Homo sapiens: one gene and its partner. The protein of the gene in region 1 interacts with the protein of each later gene in a pairwise test. Each region holds a gene or a part of one and is shown in the gene's direction. Other genes may lie near its edges.

Evidence for each region.
Region 2: the proteins of PRPS1 (region 1) and ASIC4 interact in binary tests that used the Homo sapiens proteins (3 or more experiments, as listed by UniProt).

The regions. Positions count from the first base shown.
Region 1 is NC_000023.11:107,631,448-107,635,194, forward strand, and holds part of PRPS1 (ribose-phosphate pyrophosphokinase 1), read left to right. Parts: intron 1-3,747. UniProt on the Homo sapiens protein: Catalyzes the synthesis of phosphoribosylpyrophosphate (PRPP) that is essential for nucleotide synthesis.
Region 2 is NC_000002.12:219,517,459-219,521,205, forward strand, and holds part of ASIC4 (acid-sensing ion channel 4), read left to right. Parts: intron 1-3,747. UniProt on the Homo sapiens protein: Does not exhibit measurable stand-alone pH-gated sodium channel activity but may form pH-gated heterotrimeric sodium channels. Its activity could also depend on alternative gating mechanisms.

The DNA.
Region 1 (3,747 bases):
ATATAACCAAATTCTTATTGGACATTTCCAGTTTTTGATCTAATGCTTTTATATGAAAATCCATGAACATAAATCTTTGACCATTTCTGATTATTTCCTTAGAATAAATCCCTAGGAAGGTAATTATTAAGTTAAAGGGTAGATACCATTTTTCAGGCTTTTGATACCTGTTGCCAAATTATTCCCCAGAAAAGTTGAACAAATCTGTCTCATCAGCAGTAATACAATATTAATAATATTTATTTATGTATTTATTTTTTGAGACGGAGTTTCACTCTTACTGCCCAGGAGTGCAGTGGTGCGATCTCAGCTCACTGCAACCTCCGCCACCCAGGTTCAAGCAGTTCTCCTGCCTCAGCCTCCCGAGTAGCTGGGATTACAGGCACGTGCCACCACGCCCAGCTAATATTTTGTATTTTTAGTAGAGACAGGGTTTCACCATGTTGGCCAGGCTGGTTTCAAACTCCTGACCTCAGGTGATCCCCCACACCTTGGCCTCCCAAAGTGCTGGGATTATAGGTGTGAGCTACCGTGCCCGGCTATAATATTTAATGTATAGTGAATGCCTAAGATGTGCTAGTTTCCATGCTAAGCATTTAGTATACATTGTGTTTAATCCCCTCAAAACTGCTATGAGGAATAACTCTTACTATCCCTATTTTACAGAGAAGAGAACTACAGTAAGATGCAGAGTAACTTGCCCAGCTCTGGGTATTATTGTTCCTTTAAATTTTTGCTGACAAGATCTCTCACCTGGCTTTAAAAACTTAGATATTCTAAAATTTTGACTCTATTCTCTTCAATATTTGTAAATAACTTTGGTTTATTTGGTTATTCTGTACTAGCTGAGAGGAGGAAGACTTGAACTTTGGTTGCCTAGGGTTTTCCTGAGAACTGTATCTTCTGGTTGTGGTTAGTTAATCCCATGTATTTTGCACATGCCAATATCTCCATAATCTAAATTCTTCAGATTTTCTTAAGACTACTATCCACCTTTTAGATTCACTTTTGGTGTTTCCTGACATTCCATTTCAATTGGATACACTTATGCCTGACCTTAAAGGAAAGGGAAAAGAGAAGCTAGTTTTTTCACTCATTGGATAGACATAGCCAGTCTTCTGGCCTCACCAAAACAGCTGAGAGAATGATTGGCCCAAAGCCATTTGGAGAACACTCCATTAACTAGAGGGAGAGAACAAGGAGTATTACTCTCTAAATTGCTGAATTAGGTTTTTCCACTTAATAGATTATGTTAGGAGCAAACAGGTTTTAGGCACAAATATTCTTCTCGATCACTGCCATAACTTAGAAGAAGCCATAAGAATAAGGTTAAGATTTTTAGAGGACTTGTTGAACCAAGCTGTATAATCAGAGTGCAATTCACGGACTTTTTAAGACTTTGTCAAACAAAGTCTGTATGTTATAGTACTACTATAGGGAAAGATTGGTTTTAATAAGTGAAATTAGAATTATACACATTAAAACAAGGCAGTATCACCTAGTTTACTTGCACCACCTTATTTTATTTATGTATTTGCTTTCTAAGTTTCTCTACTTTTATTTCATTTTTGTAAGATCTTTTCAAAAGCCCCACATTTTTTAAACAGTTAAATAACCTTTTCAAGTTATTAGATACATGCCTTATAACAAACACCTTCTATGCTGAAGGTAGCTTTTAATTTTAAAAAGTTTGAGCCGGGTGCGGTGGCTCACGTCTGTAATCCCAGCACTTTGGGAGGCCGAGGCGGGTGGATCACGAGGTCAGGAGATCGAGACCATCCTGGCTAACACGGTGAAACCCTGTCTCTACTAAAAATACAAAAAATTAGCTGGGCATGGTGGCAGACGCCTGTAGTCCCAGCTACTCGGGAGGCTGAGACAGGAGAATGGTGTGAACCCAGGAGGCGGAGCTTGCAGTGAGCTGAGATCCTGCCACTGCACTCCAGCCTGGGCAACAGAGCGAGACTCCATCTCAAAAAAAAAAAAAAAAAAAAGTTTGGCTTTGAGAAATAGCTGAGCTGTTGATTGATTATTAAGTGATATAATAACAAAAATGGTACTAGCGACTGTATTGGGTGGTAAGCTGATAAGTGATTTTTATTTATTTTTATTTTTTGTTTGATAAGTGATTTATAAAAAATTATTATTCAAGCCTTATGTGATGTTAGAATATGTATATTTTAAAAATAATCACCTTGGCTGGGTGCGGTGGCTCACACCTGTAATTCCAGCACTTTGGGAGGCCAAGGCAGGCGGATCACCTGAGGTCAGGAGTTTGAGACCAGCCTGGCCAATGTGGCAAAACCCCATCTCTACTAAAAATACAAAAATTAGCCAGGCGTGGTGGCACACACCTGTAGTCCCAGCTACTTGGGTGGCTGAGGCAGGAGAATCACTTGAACCTGGGAGGCAGAGGTTGCAGTGAGCAGAGATCACACCATTGCACTCCAGCCTGGGTGACAGAGTGAGATTCCGTCTCAAAAAAAATAAATACAATTTAAAAAATAAAATAATCAACTCTATTAAAGCTATATATTTATCAGATGCCCTTTGATGTTTTAATTAGCAGTGATAATTTAATTTTTAAATAGTATCTCACCTGCTTTCAAGAAAGGATTTGAAGTATGTTTGATAGTCACTAGTACAAACCGTTTGTTAAGGTAGGTATCAGAAGCCTTATAGAACCATGGACTACAGTAATTGTGGCAACTATTTGGCATAAAACAATTTCTAAAGTTTAGTGTTACTTTTTATTTTATTTATGTATTTATTTATTTATTTTTTTGAGATGGAGTCTAGCTCTGTCTCCCAGGCTGGAGTGCAGTGGCGCGATCTCGGTTCACTGCAAGCTCTGTCTCTCGGGTTCACGCCATTCTCCTGCCTCAGCCTCCCGAGTAGCTGGGACTATAAGCGCCCACCACCACGCCCAGCTAATGGCTAATTTTTTTTTTTTTTTTGTATTTTTAGTAGAGACGGGGTTTCACCATGTTAGCCAGGATGGTCTCGATCTCCTGACCTCAGGTGATCTGCCCACCTCGGCCTCCTAAAGTGCTGGGATTACAGGCGTGAGCCACCGCCCCAGCCTAGTGTTACATTTTTTTAACTGTATCCCTTGGCTTCCTGACAGCCAGAGGGATAAAGGCATATGCAATCGATTATGTGGTTTTTATTTTCATAAAGTTATTTAGAAACTTCCAGGCAAAAAATCCTAAGAATTTTATGGGTGAGACCTCTAAATAGTGATATCGAGTAACATCATGGACAATATAACAATTTTGTGGGTATTTTTTATATTGACTGATAGTTGAGGCATTTGTAAAGGGAGATAAGCCACTGTGGTCTAAGAATGTTGTTTTCTGGTCTTACTTGATAATGATAAAGTTTTTTGTTTTTTTTTTTTTTGAGACAGAGTCTCGCTCTCTCGCTCTGTCTCCCAGGCTGGAGTGCAATGACTTGATCTCGGTTCACTGCAAGCTCTGCCTCCCAGGTTCACGCCATTCCCCTGCCTCAGCCTCCCGAGTAGCTGGGACTACAGGCGCCCGCCACCACACCTGGCTAATTTTTTTGTATTTTTTAGTAGAGACGGGGTTTCACCGTGTTAGCCAGGATGGTCTCGATCACCTGACCTCGTGATCCGCCCGCCTCGGCCTCCCAAAGTGCTGGGATTACAGGCGTGAGCCACCGTGCCCAGCGATAATGATAAAGTTTTAAAAACATAGCAGAATAGCTTGTCCCTTATACTGTCTG
Region 2 (3,747 bases), on another chromosome or scaffold:
CATTTCCCCTGTCTCCAGCCCAGCCTCCTACTCTTCTGCACATACTGCATCCCCCGTCTGCTGAGTGTAACTCTGTCTTGGGTCTGGCATTCAAGGGCTGAGTCTGCTGCAGATTCACCAGGGTCTGGAATTACAGATTGGGCTGGGGGCCCATGATCCATGGTAGTGGGGAAGATGGGGTGTATTACAGGGGAAAGACTGGAGAATGGGCATGGAGATGAAGATATGGGGTCTCCAAAAAGGACGTGAGGTCCATAATCAGCTCTGTGGTGAGGACCTGGAGTCAATGATGGGGATTTGGGGTCTATGGTGGGGAGATGGGTATGTGAGCTGGTTGGTGGGGAGCCTGCCGGGGTATGGGTGGTGAGATGGTCAGAGACAGGGACAGGCTTCACCAAGGGGCTGTTATGTGTTTTCTGTTGCTTTCCCTGTTTCCTCCTTCCCACTCCCCACTCTGCTGTGACCTTTCCTCTGGAATCCAAGTTAATAAATGTCACATTTTCCAGCCTATTTTTACTCCGGGTAATGTGCCCTCCCCCAGTCCCCTCTGCTGCTGCTCTTGCTTCTGTTACCACTGCAATCGCTCTCCCCCCACGCTCCCTAATATCCCTTCATGCACTCCCAATCAGTCAGTCAATCAATCAACATGGAGTTCTGGGTGCCTACTATGTGTTGGGCTCCCTGCTCAGAGCTGTGGAGGACAGCAAAGATGGGAAGCCCTGTCCCCAGTCCCTGTCCTCAAGCAGCCTATAGTCTCGTAGAGTGGGGACAGGGACACTCAGAAGTTTAAGCAACCATGCAAGAGTTAATCAGCCATGCAAGTGGTGTCATAAGGTGCCAGGATCAATTGCCAGACGAGGTGCATGGGTAGTAAGAGGTCGAGTTCAGAGAAGGAGAGGCCATTCTGGGTGGAGGAGAGCTGGGAGGGCCTAGGGGATGAGGCAGGCTGGGCAGTTTGGAGAAGAGGGAAGAGAGGAAAGAGGAGAGGGCCCTGGGAGGTGGGCCCCGTATGTTTGCTCTGCATGGTGGCTAGCTCCAGCTAGTTTACCTCTGCTCCTCTCTTCTCCCTCCCCTCTTCACTCAGTCTCATACCATCTCACTCCCGCCCATTCTACCACCTGTATGTCCCCCACCCCCAGCCTTGTAGACAGCTCTCCCTTCCTCCCTGATTCCTGCCGCCATCTGCTACCCACACCCCCTTCCTCCAAGCCCCAGTTCTACCTTCCCCACTGCGGCCTGCTCTCAGCCTGCCCTCTTACTAAAAGGCAGAAATCACTCTTTCTCCCTAGGCTTCATTTCTTGAGCTGTAAAATGCAAGGGTGGCTCTAAAATTCAGCATCTCCTCTCACCTGGGGACCACCAGGATTCGAACCTCGGCTCTACGCATTAAGCTGTGTGGCCGTGGGGAAGCCAAAAAGCTTCTGTGAGCATCGGTTTGTGTATTCTTTTTTTTGTTTGTTTTTTTGAGACAGAGTCTCGTTGTTGCCCAGGCTGGAGTGCAGCGGCGCGATCTCGGCTCACTACAGGCTCCGCCCCCCGGGGTTCATGCCATTCTCTTGCCTCAGCCTCCTGAGTAGCTGGGACTACAGGTGCCCGCCACCTCGCCCGGCTAATTTTTTGTAATTTTAGTACAGATGGGGTTTCACTGTGTTAGCCAGGATGGTCTCGATCTCCTGACCTCGTGATCCGCCCGCCTTGGCCTCCCAAAGTGCTGGGTGTATTCTTTAAATAGGATATTAGAACCTAAAAATTGGGGGTTGTTGTGAGGATTAAAGAGATGCTCCTAAAGAGCTTAGCACACTACCTGGCACACACATCGTATACTCTGTGTAAGCGTCAGCTGTTATAAATGCCGCCACCCCAACTGCTGGCTATCTTTAACCTGACTGTTGTCAGCACCACCTACTGGTTTCCGACCCATGTGCTGGCATCTTCATTACTCTCCATTACCTAGTCATCGCCCCGCTTTTGACCCTCTGGCCCACACCCTCCTCTGCCCTGTACTAGCATTTCCATTCTATCCAGCCCTCCAAAATATGCATGCACGTGTGCATAGGTGCAGGAGTGCGCACACACTGTCTAGATCAGTGCTGCCAATAGAACATTCTGTGGTGATGGACACGCTCTGCACCTGTGCTTGTCCAACTTGGTAGTCACTAGCCACATGTGGCTGTTGAGCACTTGAAATGCGATTAGTGCGACAGAGAAAATGAATTTTACATTCAAATAGCCATACGTGGCTATAGGCTGCCGTGTTGGACAGCGCAGCTCTGGATGGCCCTAGGAATGAGATTGTCTGGGTAGGGCAGGGCTGGGATTACAACTGGGACCACAGGATATAAAGGGTAGCTGCGGGCTGTGACTGGAAGTCGGGCCATCTACTCTGTGGGCTGTGATCTCAGGTGGAGCTGAGGATAGGGCCTGTGTCTGGGGGCTGGGGGCTGGGGGCAGTGGGGTGTCTGGAGACACCACGTGAGCAAAGGTGCTTTCTTCCCAGGTGCAGGACATGACCTTGGTCTTTTCCACGCTACTGTCTGGAAAATTGAGGCTGGGGGAGGCGAAGAAACCCTGAGGAGGCATGGGTAGGAGCCAGCCCCACTCCTCAGGGTCCTCAAGGGTCCAGGCAGCCCCGGGGGGCCAGGAGCCTGGGGCCCTGTGGGCGCCTCACTATCTCCATCCCCTATGGGCTCTCCGGTCTCCCTCCCCCTCCCGACCCTCCTTCTCCACATGCTGGTGACTGCCATGACTATTAATCACTCGCCCTGTTCTCTTCCTCTCTACTAATCAGGCACAATTAGACAAGGCCTCTTCCAGCTGGGCAGTCCCTCCCCTGCCCTCCTCTCTCCTCTCCCTGCCCCACCCAGCCGCCAGCCAGGACAGCTCTGAGGCACAGAAAGCATGCAAGCCCTCTCTCTCTCTGGCTGTCCCAGGACCCAGTTTCGGGCTCCTTAGCACCCACTCCTTCTGTCCCAGCGACCTCCTTAGCTCCTTCTCTTCCCAGTGTGTGGTCAGGCCACTACTGACAGTCTCTGCCCTCCACCCCCTACACTTGGCCCTGGGAGGAGCTACTCCACACTCCATCCCAACTCTACATCTTTGCCACTGGGTTGGAGGTTCCAAGGGCTGCCCCTTGCCCCGTTGGCTGTGGAAGGGAGAGGGTGCCCACTGAGGTGGGTTCAAGCCTCTTATCTACCGCACAGGCTTGCCTCTGACTCCCCCTGCCTGTCCAGCCCTCTGTTCCCTGTGGTCCCAGCTTCTCCTGAGGCATGAGCCTTAAGCACATTTAGTTCAACATCTGGTTCAGGGCTGATCCTGCCCTCAGGAGCCAGGCAGGTCAGGTTGGGGTGGGGGGATACAGTAGGGAAGGGTGGGGTCTGAGGAGAACTGAAGACCACTTAGTCTTGAAGGACGCAGCTGCTTCTCAGCCCTAGCTAACTGTTGCCCTGTGTGAGGAGCCCAGCATGGCTGGGTCTTCCAGTCTGTCAAAAGCAGCTCCAAATCGTGATTATTTTAATAGAACAGTAACTGATTTAAAAAATACTGAGGGCTGCCAACCCCTCAGATTGCAGAACCAGGTGCACCCACCCTCCCCACCTTCCACCCCACACCAGCTGCGGCTCAGACCCTCCTGGAGGGGTGCTGTCAGCCTGCCTGCTTGGGCAGTGGAGTGGGTGGAGGGGATGTAAGTGGTGTGGCCTGGCAGGGAAGGGCAGTGACTGTTACTGTCTCAGAGGGCTGGTCTTCAAG